Regions from separate parts of the Homo sapiens genome. Here all the other regions are linked to region 1. Evidence: fine-mapped expression QTL. A gene starts in region 1. Each other region holds a variant in brackets. All regions are shown on one strand. Distances are from middle to middle.

Evidence for each region. PIP is the estimated chance that this variant, and not a neighbour inherited with it, causes the effect. A credible set is the group of variants that fine-mapping cannot tell apart.
Region 2: its variant is the best candidate, but not a certain one, in a credible set for the expression of PSTPIP1 in whole blood (TOPMed, PIP 0.50).
Region 3: its variant is the best candidate, but not a certain one, in a credible set for the expression of PSTPIP1 in whole blood (TOPMed, PIP 0.66).
Region 4: its variant is the best candidate, but not a certain one, in a credible set for the expression of PSTPIP1 in lymphoblastoid cells (GEUVADIS, PIP 0.55).
Region 5: its variant is the best candidate, but not a certain one, in a credible set for the expression of PSTPIP1 in whole blood (TOPMed, PIP 0.78).
Region 6: its variant is the best candidate, but not a certain one, in a credible set for the expression of PSTPIP1 in whole blood (INTERVAL, PIP 0.50).

Annotation. Positions count from the first base shown.
Region 1 is chr15:76,993,348-76,998,529 of GRCh38, forward strand. It overlaps PSTPIP1 (proline-serine-threonine phosphatase interacting protein 1), which reads left to right and starts at 1,779. Exons shown (of 15, transcript NM_003978.5): 1 at 1,779-2,262. The coding sequence starts at 2,227. RefSeq lists an enhancer at 1,484-1,533 and a silencer at 1,774-1,963.
Region 2 is chr15:77,030,969-77,035,348 of GRCh38, forward strand. PSTPIP1 (proline-serine-threonine phosphatase interacting protein 1) reads left to right here. Exons shown (of 15, transcript NM_003978.5): 10 at 212-310; 11 at 1,330-1,426; 12 at 1,894-1,984. Among named protein-coding and RNA genes, the nearest start is that of TSPAN3, 38 kb to the right of the region's middle. RefSeq lists enhancers at 2,249-2,886, 3,524-4,161, 4,162-4,380. The variant T/G (reference allele first, on the strand shown) is at 2,318.
Region 3 is chr15:77,037,924-77,042,903 of GRCh38, forward strand. It overlaps TSPAN3 (tetraspanin 3), which reads right to left. Exons shown (of 7, transcript NM_005724.6): 7 at 3,481-4,980. Among named protein-coding and RNA genes, the nearest start is that of TSPAN3, 31 kb to the right of the region's middle. The variant C/T (reference allele first, on the strand shown) is at 3,071.
Region 4 is chr15:77,016,949-77,022,130 of GRCh38, forward strand. PSTPIP1 (proline-serine-threonine phosphatase interacting protein 1) reads left to right here. Exons shown (of 15, transcript NM_003978.5): 2 at 1,200-1,300; 3 at 1,509-1,583. Among named protein-coding and RNA genes, the nearest start is that of PSTPIP1, 24 kb to the left of the region's middle. RefSeq lists enhancers at 2,151-2,723, 2,913-3,042, 5,169-5,182. The variant G/A (reference allele first, on the strand shown) is at 2,752.
Region 5 is chr15:77,078,550-77,083,235 of GRCh38, forward strand. No RefSeq gene overlaps it. Among named protein-coding and RNA genes, the nearest start is that of TSPAN3, 9.8 kb to the left of the region's middle. The variant C/T (reference allele first, on the strand shown) is at 2,626.
Region 6 is chr15:77,057,164-77,062,345 of GRCh38, forward strand. All of the region lies in intron 1 of TSPAN3 (tetraspanin 3), which reads right to left. Among named protein-coding and RNA genes, the nearest start is that of TSPAN3, 11 kb to the right of the region's middle. The variant G/C (reference allele first, on the strand shown) is at 2,466.

The sequences.
Region 1 (5,182 bases):
CTCCAGCCCGTCACCAGCATGGCCCTCCATCCGGGGCTGCCCTGGCTGGACAGGTACAGTTGGGAAAGGAAGGCCTCATGTGTGGGAGCCTTGAGGTTGGCTTTGAGGGTGGGAGGATTTGCCCAGGTAAGGAAGATCAAGGAAGGCTTGCCAGAAGGGAGGCTGGGAACAGAGCAGGTGGGAGTGGGAAAGGTGCCTCCAGGGAGAGGGAAGAGGCCTGGCTGGAGCAGAAGTCTCTGGGAGGTGATGGGAAGGACACCTAGAGAGGCAGGGCAGGGAGCCCAGCTGTAAAAATTTCTGCCAATAAGCAGGCAGGAGCCTTCTGTTAACAGAGGGTCTCTAGTCTGCTCCAGACCTAGAGGCATCATCCCATCTGATGGATGGAGAAACTGAGCTCAGGGAGGCTGAGCCAGTGCTATCAGAGGTGGTGGTGCCATTGGGAGGTGAGGTGCAGCCTGGCTCACTCTATGGCCTACAAAGTTCAAGGGGATTTTTACACTATTAATTGTCTTCAGCTGCAAGTAACAAAAAACCTGACTGGGGCGCCTTACAGATTAAAGATTAGCTCAAATCCAAGGTTTCTGGAGGTGAGGGCCTTCTGGGGGCAGTCCCATTGCTCTGCAATCCTCCCCAAAGTGTTTCCTCTTGGGTGGCTATTTCAGAGCCTGGGTGTGCCCCCTCTCTCTAAACCCTGGGCATGCATAATGGGCACTTGGGAGCTCAACTATTTCATCTGCAGCAGCTCTCATCTTATCACCCCGTCAGCTGTAAGGCAGACATCAGTGAGGGTGGTGATTTGCGGACAATCCCTGACTCACCCCATTTTGCCAGCCTGCCCTGGGCTCAGGACTTCCTGCTGCATCTTCTGCTGAGCCGGCAGGGCGTGGCGTCTCAGGGCTGGGGCTGGGGCTCTAGTCCAGGGCTCTTCCTAAGGTGGTACCACACAGTGCCCCCAGCACCTGCCCACCAAACTGGAAATTCCAGAAATATTCTCGACACCGTCTACTTTCCAAAGACTGGGTGTGGCAGATGAGGAAGCTGAGGCTCAGCGAGTTGGGGGGTCTATTAAGGTCCCTCAGCCCCTGAAAGGTGGGGTCAAAATTAAACAAAAACTGGGCCTCAGACTGGGTTTCCAAACACCCCACTCTGTGCCTTGATAATCCTGTTTCTCTCTCCATCCATTCCCATTCACTGAGCCGGAAGCCTCCATCTTCAGAAGGGGGTTCTCTGCCCCAAACAGCGTCTAATCTGGAGACTTGCGGTGGTGGCGGTGGTGGTGGTGGGGGCAGTGCCGGGGCCTCAGGCTGTTCTCCCTCATCTTGCTGCCTGCTCACCTTGCCTCTGTGTGCTCACAGCCCCCCAGAGCACAGCTGTGTCTGCTCCCAGACTATGGGCTCCTTGAGGGCAGGACCTGGTTTGGGTCCCAGAGCAGCCAGGGTTTGATGAATGACAGATGCCCTAGACCTGGGTAAGCCCCTCCAGAATGACTTGCTAGTGCGGGGTGGGGAGTCTGGCATCTCTGGGCCCAGCCTGGAAGGGTGCTGGACTGGCTGGCGGGTGACACACCTGGGGTTCCTGGGCCCCTCCTGGCCACACTGTCAGTGGGCCTCAAGCTCCCTTAGCATATGGCCTCTGGAATAAAGTGAGCCCGCACCTCGGGAGGGGGCAAGCAGAGGCAGGAGCAGGATGGCAGGTGGCAGGCGGGGCTGCACAGGGGAGCACAGCAACTCCACTTCCTGTGGGCGAGGGCCCTGTGCCTGCCCCGGGGGAGGTTGCACAAACCTTCCTGCGCAGGCCTCGGGCTGCCTGCCTGCCTGCCTGCCTGGCCCGGCCCGAGCTCCAGCCTGCCTCTTCCACTGGCCACTGCCTCCCACCCAGGGCTGGCATCCCTGCTCCCTGCCCTGGGTCCCAGACTGTGTCCTCCATCACCGCAGGGTCGGTGAGGGGCTGGGCTGGACACCAGGGCCCGCCCTCCCATCACTGAGCTCCACTCCTTCCTCATTTTGCTGCTGATTCTAGCCCCAAACAAAACAGGTTGAGCTTTTTCCTCCCCTCAGAAGCTCCTCTCTGGCTCGTGGCTGCCTTCTGAGTGTTGCAGACGGCGCCGGCCGGGAAGGGGGGCCTGGGCCAGCCCTGCCAGGACTGGGACGCTGCTGCTGGCGCCTGGCCCTCCATCAGGCCAGCCTGTGGCAGGAGAGTGAGCTTTGCCGCGGCAGACGCCTGAGGATGATGCCCCAGCTGCAGTTCAAAGATGCCTTTTGGGTGAGTGAGGATGGTTGGGGGCACTGAACAAGTGGAGGGGGCAGAGCTAGGCTGAAATCTCCATGCAGGTGATGGGATGCGGCTCCGAGAGGGGAGCTTTCTCATAAAATAGTGGTTGATTCTTGGTCTTAATTGTCATGGAGGTGGCCCAGGCCCCCACCCCTTCTGGACTGGAACGCAAGTGGACTCCGTGAATGAGCGTCCTCCTCTCTGCTGCCCCGTGTGTTTTCTCCTCTGGGAGACCTCTCCCCACAGCAGGAGCTCCTCAGAAGAGGGTAACACATGGGTGGGGGCTTGAGGAGGATGTGTGGGGCAGCAAAGGAGGGGTCACAGATTTAGAGACCAGACAAACTTGAGTTCAGGTCTTGGCTCTGTTACAGGCTGGGCAAGTCATTTCTGTCTCCAAGCCTCAGTCTCTCCATCTATATAATGGTGATAAAATAGAAATCAACACACCAACTAAAGCATTGGATCAGCAAGGGGATCCAAGGCACTAAAGCCCCCAGCACCTTGCCTCACTCCAAATGGTAATTCTGTTCCCCTCACCCAGCCCCTTGTCCCTTGCAGACCTTAGGGGTCCTTCAAGGAGGCAGCCAGGTGGGCAATGGCTTGCTTACTTTCTTAAATTCAACACGGGCTTAAATCAAGTCATTTCCCCCATGAAATAAGGGCGCCCAGCCAGTGGTAGAGGTAAAGTGGCTTGGCCCGGGCCACGTAGCCTGCAGCCCAGCTTGGACCCCTGGTCATCTCAGCACTTTTCCAGCTGTCCTTCAACTACCCCTCTGCCCCTCAGCTCTGGCTGTGCCCAGGGCTCTGGGGAAAAACTGAGACCTCTCTGGTTGGAGCTGGGGAATGTGGCTGTCCCGGGGTGCTGCCTCCAACCCCGAAGAGGACGCTCTGGCCCTCGGCTCAGCCGGCTGAGCCCCAGCCAACAGCCCTGCCCTCCCCGGGCCTTTTCCTGGGGCTGCAGCCAGGAGGATGAGAGCTATGGAGCCAGGCCTTCCTTCCCTTCCGGCCGGCTCCACTTGGGGCCTGTGGCCAGCGTGTGAGTGTTCTGCTTCCTCTGCTCTGACTGTACAGTAGGCAAAGGACCCCACGTGGGGAGGGCACCTTGTGCCTTTCTGGGCCTCAGTTTCCCCATCTCTACAAAGACAGGGTGGGCCCAGCCCAGAGAAGCCAATGGAGGCAGAGCTGCCTCAGCCCATCCGGAGGACCAGGCACCAGGATGCTCAGGGCCCAGGCTGGCAGCTGGAGCCCTGGGGGATGGGGGATGTGAGTCACCACCTAGCTGCCCTGCCTTGGTGTGCAAAGTTGGGGGAAGGGGTAGGGCCTGGAAACCCAGGCCACTCTGTAGCCCAGGGCAGGCCAGGACCCCTTGACTATTTTATCACTGAGACCTCTGTCCAGTCCTAGAGCCCCTGGGCCTGCCTTCCCTAGGGCAGAGCTGGGCAAGGAGCAGCCTCCATGGCAGGATCTGGGCACAGGTAGGGGTGGCGTATAAGGGAGCAGGGTATGGCAGCCGCAGCAGAAGCAAGCAGCCAGCCCCTGTGGAGCTTCCTGAGCGGCATCCTGCCCACACTCTGTGCTCGTCGCACCTCTGGGCTTCCTGGCCTCCAAGTGCCTTGTCTCCTCTGTGTCTGGCTCCCTGAGCCTGGGGCGGGCATATAGTTTCCCTAGGGAAGGCCAGAGCAGGAAGGGGAGAGAAGTAGCCAGTGGGAACCTCTCACACTGAGTCTGGGCCGATGCCCCGAAAGGTCACTGTAGGCATCACCTGCCCCAGGGCTCTGGATTCTAATACCTCTTCCTGATGCTCAGCCCATCCCAGTGCATAACAACTAACATTTGCTGAGCACGAAAGATGTGCCAGGCGCTGTTCTCAAGATGTATGCATATTCACTCATTCAATCCTTCAAACACATGCTACTGTTATCTCTCTTATTCAGATGAGGAAATTGAGGCACGGAGATATTAAGAGACTTGCGCAAGGTCACACTGCTGGGATTAAACCCCTGGCAGGCTGGCTTTAGCACTTGTGTTGTTGCAGGATCCCTCTGTCTATCTGACATATCACTGGATCTTTTGGCTTCGGGGTAAGATAAGAGGTAACCCCTCTTATCTCCCAGAGGGGTAAGAAAATCAGACAAGGTGGCTAGAACAATATTCTGAAGCTTCATTTGTAGACAAATCTGTAAAACAGAAAAGGCACACTACTCTGGCCACAGGTGTTATATTAGGAACAGCCCAGCCAGCTTGGCCCATGTCTGGGCCTTCCCCCACCCCAGCCCAAGGCACTGTCATTAAACCCTTCAGCCTGCCAGCACACTGTTTAGAAATGACTGGTTTTTAGGCGGGGTGCAGTGGTTCACGCCTGTAATCCCAGCACTCTGGGAGGCCAAGGTGGATGGATCACTTGAGGTCAGGAGTTCAAGACCAGCCTGGCCAACATGGTGAAACCCTGTCTCTACTAAAAATACAAAAATTAGCCAGGCGTGATGGCATGCTCCTGTAATCCCAGCTACTTGGGAGGCTGAGGCAGGAGAACAGCTTGAACCCAAGAGGCAGAGGTTGCAGTGAGCTGAGATTGTGCCACTGTACTCTAGCCTGGGTGACAGAGCTGACAGAGTGGAGGGACCCTACTTTGGCTAAACTGGAAAGATCATGTTTGATATCACAGCCCCTCAGTTATTGGGCAACCTCACCCATACAGAACACGGGGCGGAGGAGGGGAGCCAGCCCTGCTGTTTCTGGCTTTAGCTCACAGTAAGGGAGGAAGCAAAAGTGGTTTCTCAGGAGCCAAAGATGATTTCCCTAAGAGCTTTCCTTAAAGCTCATATACTACACTCCTAGGAGATGTCCCCTAGCTTTTACTCAGGTCCTATGAACTCTAATTTCACCCACAATTTTAATGAGCTTGGTCATG
Region 2 (4,380 bases), 37 kb after region 1:
AGGGACCCCCTGGGCATCTCCACCTCCCTCCCTGCAGCCTCAGGGCTGGCCCGGAGTCGGGATGGGGACCCCAGGGCACTCTCTCCTTTGGACTGGGCTTCCAGCAGAGAGGGCTGGCCTGGTCAGCTCCGGCTGAGCTGTGAATGGGGCCCAGCCTGGCCGGGCCCTGCAGCCGCCTCCTCACTGCTCACCTCCCTCCCACTGCCCCCAGGCCTTTCAGCTGCAAGAGTTTGACCGGCTGACCATTCTCCGCAACGCCCTGTGGGTGCACAGCAACCAGCTCTCCATGCAGTGTGTCAAGGATGATGAGGTGGGGGCTGAGGGCCTTGGTGTGGGGTAAGGTAGGGCAGCCTCTAGGCAGCAAAGCACCCAGGTCCATCTGAGCCGGTCAACAAGCACCTGGTCCTCTGTGATCCAAGCCTGGCCCCAGGGGTCTCAGGCCTCAGCAGCTCAGCCTTTGCCCCCAGAACCCCAAGACAGGAGCTCAGTACCACACAGGGCCATGGCTTCTCTGCCTGGAAGATGATGACTCTGTGGTTCCCCTGACTTCCTCCTTATGCCTCAGAGCCACAGAGCACCTGCCCCCTCTGCCGGGGATGGGAGGGGAGGTGGACACAGCTGTCAGAGGTTGGCAGAAGCTGGAGGACCGTGGCTGCTCTGCTCTAGGCCTGGTGCTTGCAGGAGCCGAGGCGCAGTCCTTCCTCTGCTCCCCACATCTCCAGGGTGTCCTGGTTCCCCTTACTGAGCCCAACCTGCTGGGTGGGTCCTCCCCAGCAGAGAGGGCCCCCAGCCAGGGTCCCTGAGCTCTGTGGATGGATGCAGCCCAGCACACGGCTCTCCCGGGCAGCCCTGGCCCCCTTGCCTGCTGTGTTTCCTGCCTGACGCTCCTGTCCGGGGCTGTGGGGGTTGATTTTCTTGTTGTTTTTGCCCAAGTGACTCGAGCCCCCTGCTGCCTCCTCGCCTCCTTGAGGTAGAAGGGCGAGCTCTGGACCCACTCTCCTAGCCCCAAGGCCTGGCTGTGCTGCATTCTCGCTGTGACCTTGGGCAAGTCACTCTCCTCTGAGTTTCCTCATCTATCCAATGGGAAAAGTGGGGTCTACCTTAGAGGACAGGTGTGAGTTAAGTCCCTTGCACAGGGCCTTGCACACAGAAGGTGTTCAGGAAACAGGAAGCTGTCAGCCAGGGCCGTGACCCCTCAGGATCAAAGACCCCGAGCCGCGCACAATGGCCTGTGAGGAGGCCGGTGGGTGGGGGCCGCTGGTCAGAGTTCAGGCCCACAGAGGGGCAGAGTGGGCATCGGGCTGCGGCCTCTGCTCTTTCCTGCCCCAGCTCTACGAGGAAGTGCGGCTGACGCTGGAAGGCTGCAGCATAGACGCCGACATCGACAGTTTCATCCAGGCCAAGAGCACGGGCACAGAGCCCCCCGGTGAGGTCCGGCTTGCGGACAGCGCAGCCTCTAGGTGCATTGAGCCCCTGGGAAGGCCCGGCCCTGAGCCTCAAGTGCCAGGACCGGGCTGGGGTAGCTCACAGCTCCCTTCAGGGCAGAGAAGCCCTAGCAGGGGTTGTGGGGAGTTGGGTCCCAGGCCTGCTGCCTCCTCTCAGGCAAAGCTAAGGGCATGATGGCACTCAGAGGAAGAGGTGGGGATGGGGATTGAGGTGAGGAGCTCCCACGGCCCCCACTCCCCGCCTGTTTGGTTCCACTGGATCACGGGTCCAGAATATTAGGTCTTGATGGTACCTACGGTGGGGTCTCTCATGGGAGCAAGACAGGCACCTCCTCAGGCACCAGGATGGGCCAGGGCCAGATTGGGAATGTAGGGCCCCAGCTGAGTCTGGCAGGGCCAGAATGGGGTGTTGGGGGCCGCCCTGGGGCTCACGGCTTGCTGTCTGCAGCTCCGGTGCCCTACCAGAACTATTACGATCGGGAGGTCACCCCGCTGACCAGCAGCCCTGGCATACAGCCGTCCTGCGGCATGATAAAGAGGTGAGGCCCCGACAGACGGAGGGAGGGCCTAAGGCTGGGCCAGGAAGTGGGTCGAGCCCCTCCTCTGCACCTGGCCCTTCCTCGTTCACTGAGCACCTACTATGTGTCTGTATCTGGTGCCCAGTTTAGGTGCTGGGCACTCTGTGGAGACAAGATAGGCTCAGTTCAGCCTATGGAACCCTCAGCCCAAGGGACCCAGACACTAGAATAATCACACCCCAATTATTCACTAGGGGAGGTGCTCCGAGCTCTGGGGAGGCCCCTATGCTGGCTTCCTTGTCCCTGGGGCCTCATGTGAGCCTGGTGCCCTGTCAGGCTGCAGTGGCAACGCTG[T/G]CTGGCTGGAGCAGGACTGGGGCATCTGGAGAATTCTCCAGGCTTTTCCAGGGCTCCTTCCCCGGCCTGGCTGCAGTCAAGTGCCAAGGTCCTAGTGCTGGGCCTCAATGTGTGACCTGGGCAAGTCATTCACACTCTCTAAGGCCAGGGCCCTGAGTGTTGGGGTCAGATTCAGAATCTAAGGACTCTCCTGGTTCAGGCCTTGAGTGACGAAGGTGACAGCCCATTGGGAGCACTATAGCCAGCTTAGGGAGCCCTCGTAGCCAGGCCTTTGAGGGAGGCCATGTGCCCTGTGAGCATCCACAAGGGTCTGTGGGTTTCACATGGTGCCTGTGCCCCCACCGCCATGCCACCACTCTTCAGCCACCCTTCAACCAAGAAGGCCCTGCCTCTGGGAGGTAGTGGACTGTGGGGAGAGGCTGATGCAGTTCCCGGCCCTTCCCAAGGACCAGCTCATTCCAGGGCCTCAGGAGCCCCTGGAACTTCCTACTCCTGGGAGGCAGAGGCTCGTGGGAACCACCCGTGCTTAGAGAGGGCACACACACACCCTCTTTGAGAATCTTGTGCAAGCAGTGACCCCAGGAGGCAGCACACCCGCAGCCTCACATGCTACAAAAGCTTGTGAGACAGGCTTCCCTGTGCCTGGTGAGGACCTGGATCCCAGCAAAGGTGGTCATTTAAGCAACTGGACAAAAGAGCTCACCTGAAGCAGTATCAGGAAGGGGCAGAAAGGAGTGGCCCCAGAGAGGATTAGAGAGAGAGAGAGAGATGTCCTGCAGGGCCGAGGGAGGCCTGGCTGCTGGAGGGGGCTGGTCAGGCCTCTGGATGGGGCATCTAGAAGCCAGGCAGGACTGGGAAGAGGCGGGGGTCAGTGACTGGGAGTCAGAAGTGTAGACAGTCTGGGGAAAAGAGGTGTGGGGGCACGCAGCACAATGGCTCAGCAAGCCCTGCACCCCTTTCCCCCTGCCCTGGCCGCTTCCTCCACCTGTCCCCAGCCCCTGCTGGCTTGCACCCTGTCCTTTGCTGCCTGGGGAGCTGGCACGTGTGTCTGCCCGCCTGTGTTGGTGTCAGGCCCTCCCATGTGCTGGGTCCACGCATGTCCACCCTGCGCATGTGTGTGCACTCCTGGGGCCTTGGCCCTCGGCGCCTCATGTGGGAAAGGCCCCCCACATGCCACCTTGAATTGCAGGGCTGCCCCCCACAGGCCCCTGAGTCATGGCTCAGCCCCTCACCTGCATTCAAGATCCCTCAGGGTCTGGTCCAGTCTCTATTTCAGTCCTGTCCCCCACACACCCAAATTGGTCCACTCCACTCCACAAACCCCACCTGTGCCATGCCTCCTCCCCTGCACCTGAGCCCTCCCTCTCCTGGTCACCTGCAGTGCCTCGCTCCCCCTTCTCTCCTAGTAAAGCTTCACTCATCTTTGAAGACTCAGCCCCACCCCACTAAGAAGCCCTCTTGCCTTGGAGGCAGTGTCAGCCTCTACTTGTTGAGCCCTCACTACTGCCCACTTCAGGGGGTGCCCCCAGCATCTGCCGCATCTGCCTCTTCTGTTTTATTTTCCTTTATTCAGTAAACCTTCATGACCCCAGCTCAGTCCAGGCCTAAGCCTGGTGCAGGGGCAGGGGTAAAGTAGCCCAGCGCTGTCCCGGAACTCCTGTGAACAGGGTGGCTGAGCTGGCCTGATCACCGTGGGCCCACAGGGAGGAGGGCTGGCTCGGCCCAGGCAGTGGAGGCCTCAGCAGGGCACGTGAGCCAGGCTTTGTGTGGCAGTGCACCCCCCACCCCTACCCATGGGGGAAGCTGCTAGGGCAAGCTAGAGCAGGGGCCTGGAGGGTGAGGACTGGGCATCTTCCCACGAGGCCTCAGTGCGGAGGTCCTAGAACCCCCAAAGGGCCATGGGAGTCTTCCAATGAAGCTACAGCTTCGGGGGTTCTAGGATCCTCCCAAGGGCCCTGCAGGGAGCAGGTGCTGAGATGGCCTGCAGAGGGCGCCAGTGGAGGGCGTAGCTGGGGAAGGAGGAGCCACCAGGACTACTTTCTGGGGAGCCCTCCTGCCTGAGG
Region 3 (4,980 bases), 44 kb after region 1:
CTTGAAGGCCTTCAGCCCCTTCTCTTTTTAGTCCCAGGAACATAACTTTCACTGCTGGCCAAGCCCTGCTCCAACCATGATAGGCTTCATCCATGCCAAAGGCATTGGGAGTGGGTGTGGAGGAGAGGGCCCCTGGCCATTGACCACTCCTCAGTCCTGGGAGTGGCCAAGCCGGCCCACCTCACACCCTCCTGGGATCCCCACCCGGCTTCGGAGCCAGGCAGGCCCAGGACTGTAAGGGGCGGGATGGGGGACACAGTGGTCCTCCTCTGCTGGGACCACACTGATGAGCTGCTGCAGGGCACTGCTGTTCCCCATGGGGAGGGGGGAGAGAGAAAGGAGGGAGGGGGGAGAGAGAGAAAGGAGGGAGGGGGGGAGAGAGAGAGAGAGAAAGGAGGGGGAGAAAGGAGGGAGGGGGAGAGAGAGAGAAAGGAGGGAGGGGGAGAGAGAGAGAAAGGAGGGAGGGGGAGAGAGACAGAATGCCCATCTTTATACCCTGATCTTTACTTGAGCAAAAAATTGGGTTCAGTTAAGCAAGCATGAGACATGGACATTCTAATGACTCATGTGTGGCCCACACTGTACCTGATGATGGGGGTGTGGTGCTAAAAGGGGCCTCAAAGAGCTCACTCAGCCCAGGAGGACAGACAGCCACCCTCTAGGCCCTGAGATGTGAGGCAGTAAGTGGGGGGAGTGGTTCCAGGGGCTGGTGCAGGCCATCCAGCAGAGGGGAGGGTGGCTTGTCTGGGAAGTGGTGACTGGGCTGGAGAGCAACTCTGGAAGAACACAGGGAGCAGATGGACAGGACTTGGTAACTTACGGGATGGGAGATGGGTGGGAAGAGAGGGAAAGTGAGGAGGTGAGGAGTGACTTCGGAGCCCAGACTTGAAGATGGGCTCCTCCCCAGGTGGAGGAGCTGGAGGGGAGTGGTGCGGGAACAAAGCCTGGGCGAGGGCTGGGAGAGGCGGGACAGCCGCGTAGGCTTACCACTGGGTGGGGCCATGTGTGGGCAGGGAAGGGAAAGGAAAGAGTAAAAAGGTATCAATACTTTACTTATTCCTTGAAGATGCCTTGTCATCTTGATTGAACATTCCATTCCACTGCAAAGATTTTTTAAAAAACCTTTGGCCTAGATATTTATCATCATCTCTGACAGGTGCCGCAGTGTCTGTGGGCCCCAGAGCGTGATGGGTAACAAGTGCTAGATAACAGAGTCTGTTCTCCAGTCATTCGGGTGGCCAGAGAATAGAACTGAAAGCAACTCTTGGGTCACAATTTATGCCAGGGGGAGAATGCCCACAAATGAATCCAAGTCAGATTCACTGCTTCTGCAGCTTTCTCCGTTCTCCCATCACTGGGCACCACCTCAGCTGCTGGGAACCAACTGCATGGATGGATGGCCTTCCCAGCAGAGACGGTGCCAGATAAAGAGGGAGTTAGCGTGTAATTGGGTGTATAAATAACTGCAGCCTCTTCCTGACCGAGGGCCACTCAAAGACAGCAAGGAGCAGGAGGACAAGCATGGTCTCTGAATCACAACATCAGGGCCTGAATCCAGGCTCACGCTTTCTTGGGTGGTCTTAGGCAAGTCACAATTTCTCTGGGCCTGTTTCAGCATCAGTAAGATGGGTGCAATATGCCCCCATGCAAAATCTCCTAAGGTTCAAATTAAACAATGATTAGGTATTACTTACCAGCAAGGGATACCACTTTTAAGGAAAAGACCCACAACCTCTGAATCTTGGCTACACTCAACAGCAGCTTTGCGCTTGGCATAATCCCCCTCGCTCAGCACACCCTCTGGGACAGCTGTGGTTATGTCAGTGAATCCTTCGCAATGATGACAAAAAGCAGCAACTCACGTTTGGCCAAACTGGAAGCACGCGCCACTGGTGTCCAACACCTAATTCCAACCACTCTCACAGCCTTTCCTAGGCCAAGAAACCTCAGCATAAGGGTCACCTGCTTGCCTTGGTCTGACTACCTGGGTGTCTGCCTATTTCTCCATCCCGGCTTTTGAGCCAACACAAGCCCAGGACAAGGTCGCACCAGCAACTGGGCTCGCTGCCCTCAGCACCCTCACGGGATTATCAAACTGTGCTCAGTAGAGCCCTCTTAGGGGCCAGTGGGAGGAGAAAGGGGGCACCCACTCCACTTCGAGATCTACTTGGAGAGTTTACATATTGCACGTGCAGTGGTTCTCAACCCAGCTGCTCAACGGAGTCACCTGAGCAGATTTTCAAATGCTGATGGTTGGGTCCCACCTCAGACAAACTGAAACCAAATCCCTGCAAACTGAGCTTGCGCATAAATATTTGAAACATTCTCCTGGTGATTCTGATACGCAGCCGGAGCTGAGAAACCCCTGGCTAACAGGATCTTCAGCTAAACATTTTTAAAAGTTTGAAAAACAGTTATGGCACCATAGTGACTTATCTCAGGTGATAGTGCCCACTACCTGCCAGATGGTGGGATAACAAAGATCAGCAAGTAGGCCGGGCACGGTGGCTCACGCCTGTAGTCCCAGCACTTTGGGAGGCGGAGGCGGGCGGATCACGAGGTCAGGAGTTCGAGACTAGCCTGACCAACAGGGTAAAACCCCGTCTCTACTAAAAATACAAAAATTAGCCAGGCGTGGTGGTGCGCGCCTGTAATCCCAGCTATGTGGGAGGCTGAGGCAGAACTGCTTGAACCCAGGAGGCGGAGGTTGCAGTAAGCTAAGATCGTGCCACTGAACTCCAGCCTGGATGACAGGGCAAGACTCTGTCTCGGGGAAAAAAAAAAAAAGATCAGCAAGTCTCTTTTCTACCCTATAATTTCTACATCTGTCTTACTTTCTTCATTGGATAAACTCAGGGGAGCAGGATTTATGTATGACTCAACTTCCCCACAAATAGCAATGCAGCAGCACCATTCAGTAGATACGAGGTTTCTGCCACGTCACTGTGTTACACCCTCAGGAGACCTCACAGATCTCACAGGCACTGCAATAGAAAGCCACGTGCAACACACAAGTTATTTTCAAGAACTGCAAGGATGCACCCAAAAAGCAGGTGCTGTTACACACCAA[C/T]AACCACCAACTCGGAAATAAGTTAGGAAAACCATTGCATTCACAATAGCTACAGACATTAAGCTTCACAGAAAAGTTTCCTAAGTAAACTCTGTTAAGATCCGAAAGAAAAAAACCCAATAACCAATCAAACCGGGCAGAGGACAGAAGCAAAATTCAGAAGATACAAATGGCTGAAACACCTTTAAAAGCATCCTGGCCCTAGCTAACAGTCAAATAAACACATATTTTCATCTCTCAGAATGGAAGAAAAGATGAAGGCTGATCACACCAAAAGTGTCAACAAGGGTGTAAAGAAATGCACATTTCATTCACTGCTGGTGGGAATAGAAATTGATATAAGCTTTCTGGAGAGCAACCAGATGTATCCATGAAAATGTTTAAACGTGACTTTTTTTTTTTTTTTTTTTGAGACAGAGTCTTGCTCTGTCACCCAGGCTGGAGTGCAGTGGCATAATCTCGGCTCACTGCAACCTCTGCCTCCCGGTTCAAGCGATTCTCCTGCCTCAGCCTCCCAAGTAGCTGGGATTACAGGTGCATGCCACCAGGCCCTGCTAATTTTTTGTATTTTTAATAGAGATGGGTTTCACCATGTTGGCCAGGCTGGTTTTGAACTCCTGATCTCAAGTGACCCACCTGTCTCGACCTCCCAAAGTGCTATGATTACAGGCATGAGCCACTGCACCCAGCCAAACATGACTTTTCCATCCAGAGTAAATCCAACTAACAAGAATCCACCCTTGGAGTTCATGTAAAAATACATGACACAGGGTGATGAAAGTGCTTTGAAACTAGATACAGGCAGTGGTTCTATAGCATGGTGAATGTACTCAAGGCAACTTCTTTACTTTAAAATCGTTAATTTTATGCCATGTGAATTGCATCTCAATAAAAATTGTTTTCATTTTAAAAATTGTAAATGACTGCAGTGTGTGTATAGAGATGATCACTGTGGCGAGTAGTGGAGGCACTGGAGGCAGCCTGCAGGCCTGCCCTTTATACACCTTGGTTAATCATGGTACTAATGTACCCACACAGCTAACACAATGGAATGACAAATCCTACAGTTAGACATGGAAGGAGCATCAGACTATGTTGTGAAGACAGAAAGAGGATCTTGTAGGATAAAATTCCTATTAGCAAAAAGCAAAAACCAAAACCCAATACCAAGTCTGTTTCTGTGTATGTAGTCTGCAAAGACACATGCCATTGCTGAACTGCTGAACTTGCTTCCCTGTGGGTACTTCTTTACAGATGTCTGTATTGTTCACATTTTTTAAAGCACCAATTACTTTTGTTTAAAAAAATACACTTAAAAAAGGCAGTAAGACAAGCTCTGTCAATCATCTATAGGACAAGAAGCAAAGACACCCCAGCTGCAATAAGCACACCTAGTGCCAGGGACCAGGGCTCCTGGGACAAACACTGATCCATGGCTGGTGCCCAGGGGCCTGGAACATCTTGTTAGATCAGAAATTAGGGGAGTGCTTCCAAAAATGCTGGGATATAGGAGGCACTCGAAGGGGCTCTCGCTGGCCAAGTCGGGAACTATCTGAGGAACTCTTCCCCCATCCCCAAAGGTCAATGATGAAGTCGACTTTTGAAAAAATGGGAATCCATAGTGGATATATGAAAATAAATGAAGGAGAAGGGAGGGATGACTGGCAAATGAGGAAGGAGTGCTGGGCTGCAGAAACGTCGCTTGGCAGTCATCATAAAGATTGAATCAGGCCAGAATCAGCAACATTTGCTGAACCTGGTCGGGGAATGGGGAAGAGTCTCATGAGGAACAGGGTATGTACATGGAGACAGTGTGTCTCCAGAGATTTCTTATTAGTTGAAAAGAAAAAAACAGTAACCATGCTATGGAGAAAGTGGACACACCTCGACTAGGTGTGCCAGGTACTCAT
Region 4 (5,182 bases), 24 kb after region 1:
ACCTTGGAGACTGTAATGTGTGTGGTCAGGGGAGCTGGGACTTCTTCCTCCAGTCTCTGAGGCTTTAGGGGTCCTCAGGGATAGAAAGGAAGACAGACTAGGTGCGGAATGTCAGGCCTGCCTTGGTGCAGTTGGTGACAAAAATCCTGTCTCCCCAGCACCTCTCAAGCTCCCCTGGAGTAAGCCTGCGTGCAGTGCCTGGGAGAGCTCAGGGGGTTGTGGCGGGGATCCTGGCCCCGGGACCCACTCCCCAAGCCTGGGAATGTCCTGGGAGACCTCTGTTCCTTCATAGTCCTTAAAGACTACCTCCCTCCCCCAACTTCTCACACCCAGCTTCCCACACCAGCAGCTCAGACACACACCTGGAATCCACTGCACAGTGAGAAAGGAGAATTGGGTTGGCCAGGAACAACAGCCAGGGCAAGCAGGGCAAGTGCCAGGCAGCAGAGGGTAGCTGTCCCTGGAGAGTTCTCTGAGGCTCCCCACCCCACCCCAGTCCAGAGGTGAATGTAGGGTGTGCTTGCGCATGCTCTGACCTGGACTGAAGTCACCCTCCATGCCCACCTCCCTGGATCTCCGTGAGGGGGGGTTTCCTGAGCCCACAGAGAGCCCAGCGCAGCATCTGGCACATGGCTGGTGCCCAAGAAACCGCAATTGCTGTGATGGTCATGGAGACTGCACAGTGCTGAGGTGAAGGGCAGGGACCCCAGCCAGACAGCCTGGGGTTCAAGGCCAGGCCAGCCACTTTCCAGCTGGGCCGCTCTGGATACGATCACATGTCACCCTCCTACACCTCGGTTTCCCCACTTAGCTGAGATAGGGATATTGGAAGGGTGGCACTGTGAGTGAGTGAATTTCAGGCCTGGCTGTCATCAGGGGGACTTAAGGGTGGCTCTTCCCATCTGCTATCTCATGCTGATGTGTGTCCTGTCCTGTGAGCTCTCCAGATGCCAGGCCCGGCACCCCCGGCCCTGTCAGCTGGGTGGGGCTCACTTATGTACCTGTCACCTCTGCAGATGTGAGGGGACCTCCTGTGTGCCTGTGTAAAGCCAGGTCTGGAGTCCCAAGAGCTTGCCCTGAGCAGGGGAGATGGAGGCAGGAGGGAGGCTGTTCCCAGAGATGGTGGGAGGGTCCCCACAGGGCTGTGCTCAGTGTCGCCTGGTCGTGGCCCTCATGTGTCCTTCTGTCCTGTGTCACAGTGCAGGGACTTCACAGCCCACACGGGCTACGAGGTGCTGCTGCAGCGGCTTCTGGATGGCAGGAAGATGTGCAAAGACATGGAGGAGCTACTGAGGCAGAGGTGAGCTGCTGGGCAGGCCATGGGGAGCGCAGGCAGGAAGCAGGTGGCTTCCGCTCGGCTCCTGGGACAGTGGACGAGGCCCCCATCCCAGCCAAACTCTGTCAGAACACGCCCTGCTTTAAAAAACTCTTCTGTGTTCCCTCAAACCTGGGCCTCCCCCAGAGGTGGCAAGTCACTGATGATCTTTCAAATGCCCTTTTTTTTGCAGGGCCCAGGCGGAGGAGCGGTACGGGAAGGAGCTGGTGCAGATCGCACGGAAGGCAGGTGGCCAGACGGAGATCAAGTAAGATCTCCCGGGCCCTGGGGCTCACTCCTCTCCTCTGCTGGCAGTTTCTGGGCCTTTAGATGAGGTTTAGGTCTTCCTGGCATGGGGGAGGCTGGGCAGAACCAGGGTAGGTCTGGATTGCTCCTTGGTGCCTGGTTATTGGGCATTCAGGGTGAGGCCAGGTTCTGTGAGGGAGGAAGCCCGAGGGTCTGAGTTCTGGAAAGGGTCTGGGCAGGGGAGACAGGAGGCCATCCATCCTCAGTCATTTGCAGCGCAGTCTGCACCAGCCTGGGTGGCCTCCACTGAAGTCCTGAGGGGCAGGTGACAGGCGTCTCCACTGGTGGCTCAAGTCCCCTGCAGCACTGGCTCAGCATGGGCTTCAAGGATGGAGATGTAGCCAGAGACAGGGGTCCAGGAGGGGACACACCTGGGTTCCGGTGTCAGCTCCTCACCCCCCAGCTGTCTGACCATGGGCTGGCTGCTGACACACTCTGTGGCTCCGTTTCCTCATCAGTGATGGGAAAGTAACGCAGCCCTCCTCAAAGGAAGAAGTGGGCCCATGGGCTTAGCTGAGGCCTGGTTAGAGGGCAGGCCGTCAGGGAAGTGGCTCTGATGAAGCGGGAGTCTCCAGCCCCACAGGTCTCTGCACGCAGACTGCTGGGGTGGGAGGCCAGGTGAGGAGATGAAGGTGAGTTCAGGACACAGCCACCCTAACAGTGGAGTGGAGGGGCTGCTCTGGGAAGGCCCAGACTGTCCCCCTGGGTGAGGACAGAGCCAGGCCAAGGGGCAGACAGACCACCGGCCTCCAACTTCTTGAAAGGGCTCTGCAGAGTCCTCCTGCCGAGGGGCCCTGAGCCTGACCCTGCAGCTGCTGTGGAACCCCTTCCCTTCCTGCCTTCTCCCCCGAGAGAGGAACTGAATGTGCCATACTCTGAAGGTCCCCCAAAGACACCAGGCACCCTGGCGGCTCCTGCTTCCAACCAGGAGCCAGAGATCACAGGAAGGCTTAGATGTGGCATGAGCCGTGTGTGAGGCCAGAAAGTTGCACACAGCCCTGGGAGGACGGAGGGCTCTGAGGAGCCCTTGGAGCTCTGGTCCCGGCTCGGCCAATCTGAGCTGTGGGACTGTGGGCCAGTCGCCTAGCCTCTCCAAGTTTGTTTCTCACCTCCCACTCCAGCGAGCTGCC[G/A]TGCAAATCAACAAGAACATGGTCTGAGGGCCTCCCAAGGGAAGGGCTGAGGGCCGGGTGCAGGCTGGGCACAGAGGAGGGCTCAGGACATGGTGAGGAGTGAATGGACGTATGCAGGGAGGTGTTTTCTGCAGGAAGCAGTGCCCAGAGCTCTCAGCCAGGGGAGGAGCAGCTGTGGGGGCCTGGCAGCATGACCAGGGGAGCCCCTCCTGGTCTCCTGGCCTCCCAGCCTCCAGGCCAGCTGGAAGAGAACTTTCCCAGAAAGAGAGGGTACCTCATGGGGAGAACTCAGAGACTCAGGAGAGGTGGAGAGGGTGGCCCCAGCAGGGCACAATGGGAGCCAGGCTGGAGTGGGTCTGTGTGATGCAGGCTCAGGGGATTGTGAGTCACAGGGGATTTACAGCAGGGAAAGAGAAGCTACCCACAGAAAATACAATGGGGGTGGGGAGCAGGGTGGGCCTCAGGAAGCAGGAGGTACGCAACATCTTGCTCCATTTGTAGAACTAGGAAGGGGCCAGGTGGAGGCTCTGGGCGGCCCTGATTGCGCCATGGTTATTCAAGGCCAGGTGGGGCAGGGTCTGCCCTGACTTATCCTTTGTGTGGCCCTGGATGGTCCTCCCTGTCTCTGAGTCCAGGGTCTGTACCTATGGAAGGGGATGGTCACTTGGAGAGGTGTTCTGGGCAGTCACAAGGACAAGCAGAGAGTGCCAAGCCACAGGGGTTCACTGCACACAGTGGGGCTCCATAGTGTTGCTCTTGACCCATGTGGCATGAAGTACTGTTGATGAGGCCATGCAGCTGTTCCTTTCGGTGTAGGCCAAGCATCCATCCTCCATCCATTTAGTCACCATTTAATTGAGGACCTACTATGTGCCATGCCCTGGATGGGTCAGGAGGATTCACTAATTTAAAATAAAATAAAGGGCTTTGCCATTCCTTAGCCAGAGTCCAGCACAGTGAGGGTGACTTCCTTCTCCTTCCTAGTCCTTTGCATTAGGGCCCATTTATGCGCCACCTCCTCCAGGAAGCCCTCCCAGACACCTTGCCTTGCCTTACTGTCAGAGTCTTGGCTTAGACCCAATTACCCCTCCCCATGCCAACCTGAAGGGCTTTTGGTGGGGAAGTGTGAGCAGTGGCCGTGGACCTGTTTCCTCATCTTAGACTCCTGTGGGGGGGGGGGGTGTGTGTGTTGGCCCTCAGGAAAGGTGACCCGGCTCTTCAACATCGGGGCTGGTGGCCCACCCTCCAGGGCCCATCCCTGAGTAGGGGAAGCCCCTGGCCTCCCTGAGGCCCACAGCTGCCCCCCAGGTCTATGGGATGCTCATTCCCTGCCCCTTGCAGAACGGGCAGGGGACTGGGGGATGGGAAGGCTAGGAACAGGGTGCAGAACGAGGACAAAAGCCAGGTGGTTAAGTGACCCTATAAATAGCCTAGTGAGCCCTGAGGGCAGAACTGCTGCCTGAAGGTACTGCATTTCTGCAGTCCCCTGACCTCAAACCAGCCGGGAGCCACCCTCAGGCCTGGAGGCTCGGGCCACTGAAATTAACAGGAGGTTACATCTTAAGTGATTTTTGACATGTACCTCCTTCACATGTTAACTCAGCAAACATCCGTGGGGCAGTGGCAATGGAGGATGGACAAGTAAGACCCAGTCCCCAAACTCCAGGGATCCCCACCAGCGCTTTCAGTGCATTTTAAAGACAGCATTAGGGCCAGGCGCCGTGCCTCACGCCTATAATCCCATCACTTTGGGAGGCTGACCTGAGGTCAGGAGTTCGAGACCAGCCTGGCCAACATGGTGAAACCCCGTCTCTATCAACAATATAAAAATTAGTTGGGCATGGTGACGCGAGCCTGCAGTCCCAGCTACTCAGGAGGCTGAAGCAGGAGAATCACTTGAACCTGGGAGACGGAGGTTGCAGTGAGCCCAGATTGCACCACTGCACTCCAGCCTGGGCTGCAGAGCGAGACTCCATCTTAAAAAAAAAGATAGTGTTAGTATTTGCAGGGGGCTTACCAACATTGCTGACATCACATGTCCAGCCCTGCAGAGACTTTGCCTGACTCTCCTTTCCAGCCTCTGGGCCTTTGCTCCTGCTGTTGCCCTGTTGCTCCCCTGCCCAGTCCCACCCATCCCTCAAGGCCTGCCTGAAATGTCACCTCCCTCAGAAAGCTGTCACCTCCACTCCCCTATTGCTCATCCTGCGTCAGGTAAGGTGCTGGGGGTGCTGCATGCCCCCAGAAGCTGCACAGGGCAGGGGTTTGGGAAACAAAGGAAAACCAAGGCAAGGCCAGCTTCCTGTAGCCCCTCTGTGGTTACCAGTGGGCAGGTACAGCCCCCAAGGGGTGCAAGTTTGAATCCTCACGTCCCTGCCTCACCCCCAGTTGTCACAAACCAAAAATGCTGTGGTTTTCCTGTCAGAGAGATTTT
Region 5 (4,686 bases), 85 kb after region 1:
GGCTGGTGGTGACGGGCGCCTGTAGTCCCAGCTACTGGGGAGGCTGAGGGAGGAGAATGGCGTGAACCCGGGAGGCGGAGCTTGCAGTGAGCCGAGATCAGGCCACTGCAGTCCAGCCTGGGCGACAGAGCTAGACTCCGTCTCAAAAAAAAAAAAAAAAAAAAAAAAGAATAATACCGATTTCACAGAGTGCATTTAATCCGAGAGGATTACACGATAAAACAAACACAAAGTACTCAGCTCTACTGCTCAGCAGCACATGACACGGACGGCAGCCAGGTCACTGAGTTTGAGAAGCCTTAGAAGTCCTTTGCGTCACAATTTGCCACTTCCTACTTTTTTTTTTTTTTTTTGAGACGGAGTCTTGCTCTGTCACCCAGGCTGGAGTGCAGTGGCACCATCTTAGCTCACTGCGACCTCTGCCTCCCGGGTTCAAGCGATTCTCCTGCCTCAGCCTCCCAAGTAGCTGGGACTACAGGCGTGGGCCACCATGCCCTGCTAATTTTTTGTATTTTTAGTGGAGACGGGGTTTCACCGTGTTAGCCAGGATGGTCTCGATCTCCTGACCTCGGCCTCCCAAAGTGCTGGGATTACAGGCATGAGCCACCTCGCCCGGCCCCTACTTTTTTTAATTAAAATTCTTACTGAATTAAAACATACACTCAGAAAAGTACACAAACCATAAATGCATGGCTTCACTGTTACAAAGCGAGAGCAGTTGTGAAACCACCACCCAGATGAAGAAATAGAGGGTGGCCAGCACCCCAGAAACCTTCTCTCCTGGGCCCTTGCCGTTGTTACTCCCCAGCAAGAACCACCACTATCCTGATTCCTAACACCAGATCAGTTTTATCTGCTTTTGAACTTTTTATGAATAAAATTTTACATATAAATGAATCACAAAGAGTCATGATCTTCTGTGTTTAGCATCTTTCACTCCACATCATATTTACGGGATTCATGTATGTTGTTGCATGAAGCAGAAGTGTATTCATTTCTTGTGAATATTCATATTCAATTGTATAATTATAGCACAATGAATTTGTTTATTCTATAGTTGAGGGACATTTGGATTATTTGCAATGTTTGTTTGTTTGTTTTTTGAGACAGAGTTTCGCTCTTGTTGCCCAGGCTGGAGTGCAATGGTGCGATCTCAGTTCACCGCCACCTCCATCTCCTGGGTTCAAGTGATCCTCCTGCCTCAGCCTCCTGAGTAGCTGGGATTATAGTCATGTGCCACCACACCCAGCTAATTTTGTATTTTTAGTAGAGACAGGGGTTTCACCATGTTGGCCAGGCTGGTGTCGAACTCCCGACCTCAGGTGATCCACTCCGCCTCGGTCTCCCAAAGTGCTGGGATTACAGGCGTGAGCCACCATGCCCAGCCAATTGTTTGCAGTTTTCAGGCTATTTAGAGTAGCGCTGCTATGAATATTCTTGAGTCCTCCAATCCATGAATGTGATATATCCCTCTCACCCTTTATTTAGGTCTTCTTTAATTTCTGTCAGTGATGTAGTATGTAGTTTTATACATCTTTTATTAGATTTATTTCTAGATATGTCTTGCTTTGATGTTATTGTAAATGGTCTCATTTTTAGAATTTCACTTTCTAATTGTTTGTAGCTATTAGTAGAAATACTACTGTTTTTGGCTGGGCACGGTGGCTCACACCTGTAATCCCAGCATTTTGGGAGGCCGAGGTGGGTGGATCACCTGAGGTCAGGAGTTCAAGATGAGCCTGACCAACATGGTGAAACCCTGTCTCTACTGAAAATACAAAAATTAGCTGGGTGTGGTGGTGGGCGCCTGTAATCCCAACTACTCAGGAGGCTGAGGCAGGAGAATCTCTTGAATCCAGGAGGAGGAGGTTGCAGTGAGCTGAGATTGTGCCATTGCACTCCAGCCTGGGTGACAGAGCAAGACTCCGTCTCAAAAAAAAAAAAAAAAAAAAAAAGATTAAAAAAAAAGAATCTACTGTTTTTTGTATATAGAGAGGGTATCCAGCAACCTTGCTAAATTTTATTGATTTTAAGGGTTTGTATGTAGATTTAAAAAAATTTTTTTTTAGAGATGGAGTCTCACTATGTTGCCCAGGCTGGAGGACACTATTCACAGGCATGATTGTAGTGCACTGCAACCTTGAGCTCCTGGGCTCAAGCAATCCTCCTGCCTCAGCCTCCCAAGCATTGGGACTACAAGCACATGCCACTGTGCCAGGCTTTATCTGTAGATTAAAAAAAAAATCCTATGTACATAATCATGTTGCCTATGCATAATAGCAACTTTATTTCTTTTTTTCCAATACATAAGACGTAAGATTTTTATTTTTTTTCCTGCCCTATTGCACTGGTAAAATCCAAGCACAATGTTGAATGGAAGTAGCGATAGCATGTCTTCTTGATTTATTTCTAATATCAGAAGAAAACATTCAATATTTCACCACTCAATGTGATGTTTGCTATAGGGCTTTTACAATGCCTTTGTAAGATTATTTTTAAGAATTACTTGTTTGCTAAGAAGTTTTTTATTTTTAAACCATGAATGAGTGTTGAATTCTATCAAATACTTTTTCTGCATTCCAGCCTGGGCTACAGAGTGAGACTCGGTCAAAAAAAAAAAAATCC[C/T]TCCTTGCAGGGATATAGACACTTTCAACAGCATCTCAGTTGAACTGCCTACTAAAGCAAAAATTCTTCTGTAGAAAGACCACCTGACTTTAATGAATGGCCCTGTAACCTGAGGGGAGAAGGGAGAGAAAAGAAAGGCACTTTGGGATCCCTTAAAAGAGGAGGTGACCAGCCAAGCATGTTGGCTCATGCCTGTAATCCCAACACCTTGAGGCCAAGGTGGGCTGATCACTTGAGGTCAGGAGTTCGAGACCAGCCTGGCCAACATGGTGAAACCCTGTCTCTACTAAAAATACAAAAAAAAAAAAAAAAAATCTCTGGGCGTGGTGATGGGTGCCTGTAATCCTGGCTACTTGGGAGGCTGAGGCAGGAGAATCGCTTGAGGCAGGAGAACCTGGGACACGGAGGTTCCAGTGAGCTGAGATTGTGCCACTGTACTCCAGCCTGGGCAACAGAGCAAGACTCCATCTCGAAAAAGAAAAAGAAATGTGGAAGAAGGAGAAAAGAGTAGATAGGAAGTGTTATTCCAAGAGGGAGGCGCAGGGAGCCCTAATGGCCAAGGTGGGGCACAAATCCACCGAGCACTGGGGATCAAGTAGAGGCAGGGGAGTGAGGGCACTGCCCAGGGGCCAGGGAAGCCTGAAGTTTGGGTTGGAGACAGAGGCAGGGGGTAGAGATCCCTTCCCCACATCACCAATTGCCAGTGATTGTACCAGGGTCTAGGAATCCAGATAGGGCTACTTGAGATGCTGTGTGTCCACCAGAGCCCAGGGAGAGAGCTGAACTGTGCCTCCCCCATGGCCCCGGATGGGCCGAGGGAAAGGGAAGCTGCCTGTCCTGGGCCCACATTCCTGGGTACTGCCCGGATGGAGGCCATGGGTGAGGGAGGACCCTTGGGAGCAGGGAACAGAGGTGGGCCCAGCAGTACTGGGGACAGGGAGAGACGGGGGAGGTGCAAGGGAGGTTTTGACAATGTTTATGTTTTCACAGCTGCCAACTCAGGGTCGGGGAGCAATTGCTGGGTGAGAGAAAAATAAGCTGAGCAACTTGAGCTGGTTGAGAAACTCATTTCTGAACTTCACAGGAAGAGTTGGGGGAAGCTGAGGAGTTGCCTAGGCCAGCAGGCCTTGTAGAAGATAACAGTGATGGGCTTTTATCCCTGCCATGACCAAGCCCTAGGCCAGGCATCTCCTGACTCCTGCAGACACCAGTTGAAGCTTCCTCTACTCAGTTCTTCCCACCAGGAGACAGACCAGAAGCAGCTCTGGATACTGCTGCACTTTTGTCTTACGTGAAGTCTCTGGGGCTCATCTCACCCTTTGGGGGGTCAGCTGGCTTCCAGTGAATTGACCTTTTGGCTCAAGGGTTCCCAGAGAGACAGTCTCCTGCTTTGGGTTCCCACTTTGCTTATGTAGGGTTTATACAATGTAGGATCTTCTCTTTCTCCAGAGTTTCAACCCCAAGGCGGGGTAAGCCCCCTGGCAGCTGCTCTTCACCCTTGTCTGAGCACAGGCCCACACTCCTCTCACTCCTGTATGTCTCTCTGTCATCTCCCAGCTCCTGGAGAGCATCCACTCCCTCCCTCCCACATGTGACTTACAGTAGACTAGACTGCACACCTCCAAGCATTGCCATGGAGAGGAAAAGAAGACTTTTGGAATTTTGGAAATACTGAAATTCCCAACAAAATTTCTCTTCAGCCTATGGTATCTCTATTGTCAGGAGCCCAGGACATAATAATTTCAGTGGAATTTAAAATGCATCATTTCAGAGCCAGGCATGGTGGCTCACACCTCTAATTCCCAGCACTTTGGGAGGCCCAGGTGAAAGGATTGCTTGAGGGCAGAAGTTCAAGACCGTACCCTAGCTCTACAAAACAAAAATACATCATTTCATGATATGGAAAGGTCTCTAGAATTGCTAAGTGAAAAAAGGCAAGGCACAATGGATGCTTCTTTTTCAAGGAACACAAATAAATGCTCCCTTTGGGCAAGGAGGGTAGAGTAAGAAAATATATTGGGGCCGGGCATGGTGGCTCACATCTATAATCCCACCACTTTG
Region 6 (5,182 bases), 64 kb after region 1:
AGCTCTGTGCTGACAGCCCAATGCCACTGGCTCATATACAAACAAGCAAATGCAGTGTCAGAGTAAGTGTTAAAACATTTGGTTATCACTTGGATAACAATGAGTTATCATTTGTAGAGTACTTTGAAACTTTCACAAGAAGTATTTCATCATCCTTTAAAATTTAACATATAAATCATCTTCAAACTAGAAACAGCTGCCACAGTGATACTGGAAATATCATTAACTTCTCTGAACCTGAAAACCCAGATCATTTAAGTTTATGAAATTCAGTAAGCTTGGGGATCATCAGTATATTTTTTTACACTAGGCCATTAGGATCACTGTCAGATGAGGAAGAAAAAGACTCCATTTATGTAAATTTGGGAAAGTAATTTGATTTTTTAAAATGTAACATGAACTTTTTAAAGTGAGAAGACAACTAGAATAATGAAGGCAATTTTTAAAAACATTGTTTTAAAACTCTCTTCCTCTGGCTTCCAAGAGGCCCCACTGCTGGTTTTCTTCCTACTTCCCCAGGTGCTCACTTTTTCATTCTCTTCACGGACTCTGAGATGTTAGTGATCTCCAGGATTCTGTCTTCGGCCTTATTCTTTAGTCATTCTCTGGGCTCTCCGTGGGCTACAGCAGCTATGGCTTCATTAGTCATTGTAGCTCACTACCTGAGCTATCATCTCAGAACTACACATTTCCATCTGCAAGTTCCAGAGACATGTCATCCTCAACCTGTCTCAAACCCTTTCTGCCTTCCTGCCCAGCCCATCTAATCTTCCCTTACATTCCTATCATAGCAAAAGGTACCAGACATCTAATTTTTCTGGTCAAACATCTGAGGATTAACTTTCCTTGCCCCACCTCTATAACCCATAAATCACAAAACTTCAACTTTACTTCCAAAACATTATTCGAATACCTCAACTCCTCTTCAACCCCACTGCAGTGCTTCTGTCTTAATTTGGGCCTTATCTTATCCCCCTAAATCTTACTTATTGACTCTCCCTGCATCTTAATACATTCTTTATACTACCAGGGTTATATTTATTAAAAATACAAACCAGATCAAGCCATAGCCTTACTTAAAATCAGGATGAGGCAAGTGAGTCCCCGATGAACCAAGCTATTCCTCCTTTTCAGCCCCAGATCTCATTACCCCTTGTGAACTATGAACAATATAGAACTGTTATACCCAAATGGACCACATATTCTCTCACTTCTTTGCCTCCGCTGTTCTCTCTAGAATGCTCTCTTCAAATGCCTGGGAACTCCTTGTCGCTCATTAAGATGAAGCTTAAATGTTACCTCTTCCTTTTGGAAGCCATTCTTGACCATTTCAGGCTGGATTAGCTGCCCTTGGTGGACACAAACATCTCCCAGTGCATGGTTCTAACAGAATATTTATCGAAACGGTTGCAATTATAGCTATACCTGTCTCAACACACCTTGAGAGCACGAATTGTACCCATCTGTCCTTCACCCTTGTATCATCTAGAACAGTACTTGGCAGACAGCAGGTATCAGTTAAAGTTTATTGAGTACACCTCATCTCACCCCTTTCCCTTGAAATCACCCTCCCAACTCTATCATAAGCTTTGGTTTGTATTTGCGTTGGTTTGTATTTGTATTTGGTTTGTATCTGGTTTCTCTTCAGTTCAATGCTTATAGCTTTTAGTTCACTATTCAATTATTTGGCAACTGAATCCAGCTTGCTGAATTCTGATGGCCATTACATCTGGAATATGTTAATATATCGTAAATATGTCATAAATATAAACACTGTACTTACAGCAAACTGCCTGTTCAAAGGTTCTCAGAGTTCACTGACATATTTGCTTTTGGGGCATGGTACTAGAGAATGAAGGTGAGCACAAAAGTGGGGGGGAGTGGAGAAGAGAAATAGTTTAATTTATCTTAATTTTATTTTATTTTATTTATTTTTTGAGACGGAGTCTCACTCAGTCGCCCAGGCTGGAGTGCAGTGGCGCAATCTCAGCTCACTGCAGGCTCCGTCTCCCAGGTTCACGCCATTCTCCTGCCTCAGCCTCCCGAGTAGCTGGGATTACAGGCGCCCGCCACTACACCTGGCTAATTTTTTGTATTTTTAGTGGAGACGGGGTTTCACCGTGTTAGCCAGGATGGTCTCGATGTCCTGACCTCGTGATCCGCCCGCCTCGGCCTCCCAAAGTGCTGGGATTACAGGCGTGAGCCATTGCGCCTGGCCAGACATAGCTTAATTTTAATTTGGGTGCATTTATTACAGAAGTATGTCAACTACTTAACACTCTTCCCAAATACCCCTTTTTATTGACTACTTGTGTGATATATATTCACACACATGTACACACACACATTTTGCTAAAGTAAATAGTATCAGTCCTCACGCTAAATTAGAAGCAATCTGAAGTGCAAATTAATCAAATTTTGTCATTTGTTTTTATTAGACGTTTCTCTATCCTTTAATGTTGTAG[G/C]TTTTTTTTACTCTAAAAGGCAGTATTTATTTCTTAAAAGGCTTGAGTTAAAATGAATTCCATTTCTGAGCTTTCGGTACACCTACTGAAACTTCACTAGCTTTAGCCTATGTAAATTCGAATGAAAATAAGAGAAAACTGGAGGCCATATGTACTTAACAATCAACCTGAAGCACAGTTCACTGAAGAACTACTTGCATTTTAGATATAAATTGATGAGTTTTCAATCTAAAGAGGTTCCTATGAGACTCACACTTAGTGCTGCTTGGAGGTGGGCCAAGGGAAATGTTTCCTCTGCTGCCACTGCCTCTCCCCCCTAAAAGAGGCACTCATCTGAAACTGAGACTACAAGAAAGCAGAAAAACCAGCAACAGAGACAACCAGATGCACAACAAATGCAATGGAGGGCTGTGGGGAGATGCCATTTGTAAAGCTGCCTCTTCTTTTCTGATAGACTCTACAACAGTTTTTTTTCCCAGGCTGCAGTCAACATCCAAGTCACACAACAAGATGAGAACATAACAAAGCTCTATTTGGCAACATATAGTTAAAGGAACTTACTAGTTGCACACACCAAAGAGAAAACTGCACGGATTGCTGATATGAAACTATACACATCAAATTGCTTATAAATAGACGATGTGTTTCCTAAATTGAAAACAGCTTCAAATTTTGCTTTTACTGAAATCTGTATATGGTGCTTATATCTTAAGCTGTATAATAAACAATTATGAAATGACACTGGTTACTTTGAAAATATAGAAGAGGTATCCCAGTAGCAGCTGAAGACCTAAAAACAGCCAAAAGTAATTGTTGTAATGATATCCAACCATCAATATGAAAAACACCCAAAAGAACATGGGAAACAGTATAGTAAATGGAAGAGAGGTTCTAAGAAATTCCTAACTAGTATGCATAGGGACTTTGTCATCCCTCAGATTTTTAATGCAGAAATTGTGGCTATCAGAAAAGCTATATAAAAGGTGAGCTTAAATTCTTCTTTTGAAGGGCCATGATGGGATTGAGATCTATCAAAGGATCTGAGCTTTGCCAATAAAGCAGCTGCAAAGGAGGGGGCTGGGGAGGAGGGAGGTGCAACAGAAAAGGAGATGAAATGTAGAACTTGGAAGCAGCTGAACTGCTTTAGTCACCACTGAGAAAATCTGAGCCTGTAAGGAGGATTTGTGCCAGGACAGTGTACTAAAAATATTCATCCTTTTTACAAAGAAGTGAAAGGAAATTTAGGCAAAAGGCTGAGGTCTGAAATTACAGAAAGAATAATTTTTAAAAAACCATTATTCTTTATCTTTTAATAAGCCTATACTCTAAATTAAGTCACAACATTTTAAAACTTTAGGAGAGCCAGTGCTTTTCCACTAAGCTGTCTAAAAAATAAAGCCATCTTGTTATAAAATTTTGCAAGTATATGAGTTCCAAAAGTATGATACTTCATTTTATGCTTTTACCCTTCCTCTACATATGCACAAATGTGAAATATCTTAAAGAGATTTCATTCTTATATGAGATTGCTTTTTCCATAGCTTAGAAACTAGTTTTTGGGGGGGTAATTTTCAAATATTCTATGAAAGAGACAAGTAGATAAAATGTTAAAATCTGGGCCAGGCGCAGTAGCTCACACCAGTAATCCCAGCACTTTGGGAGGCCAAGGCCGGCAGATCATCTGAGGTCATGAATTCGAGACCGGCCTGACCAACATGCAGAAACCCCGTCTCTACTAAAAATACAAAATTAGCCGGGCGTGGTGGCACATGCCTGTAATCCCAGCTACTCAGAAACGCTGAGGCAGGAGAATCGCTTGAACCTGGAAGGCAGAGGTTGCAGTGAGCCGAGATTGCGCCACTGCACTCCAGCCTGGGCAACAAGAGCAAAACTCAGTCTCAAAAAATTAAAAAAAAAAAAGTTAAAATCTGTAAAACTATTAAATTCCTTTTCATCAACCACGGTGTAACCTGCCATTGGAATGTGGCAATATTAAAAATGAAACAGATTTGCTACAAGTGGGGAGATAAAGTAGCTCTGTTGCCAAAAGTATACCTACATGGAGATTTAGAAATACAAAGGCGAAAGCATCCCACAGGACATTTTGGGCGAAGCTGAAGCAAAGAATAGAAGTGATTTTCTTGCAGTGGTATGTAGTAGCCATTGATGATGATTCCCATCTAGAACTGGCAAGAATCAAAACAATGTAAAGACAAGGCACCATCTGGACTTTATTCACCTAAAAGCACAGTGCCTGACAAATTCTTGCTTGCCTGTGTGAACTGCTCCCTTCGGAGTGATTTTTGCCAAAGAATCAATTAGTAAAGTAGAAGTGACTGGAGTGTTGAGAGAAAGGAAAAAAGTCAAGAAGTAAAAGACTGAGCAAAAAATGCTGTACTCTAGACTTTGTAAGAAAGCAGGTTTTAAAAGCAGAGGGAAAAAATAGGCAGGAATCCATCTTATGCATATATCTTTTTAACATTAAATCCAGAGTTTCCTGTACTGTCATATTATTTTTCATATACCTCTTTTCTCTCCTGGGAAGAATCGTTGGTAATTCCACACAGTGGATTTCTGAAAGCTTCCCCAAACTTCACCCTTATGCCATTACAAGTGTCTTAAAATCATCTTAAATCGTTTAGCATTCTACTTGCCATAATGTATATTCTCTAATTCAACCATGCTTTCACCTCTGACTTAATCTGATAGAACAGTTT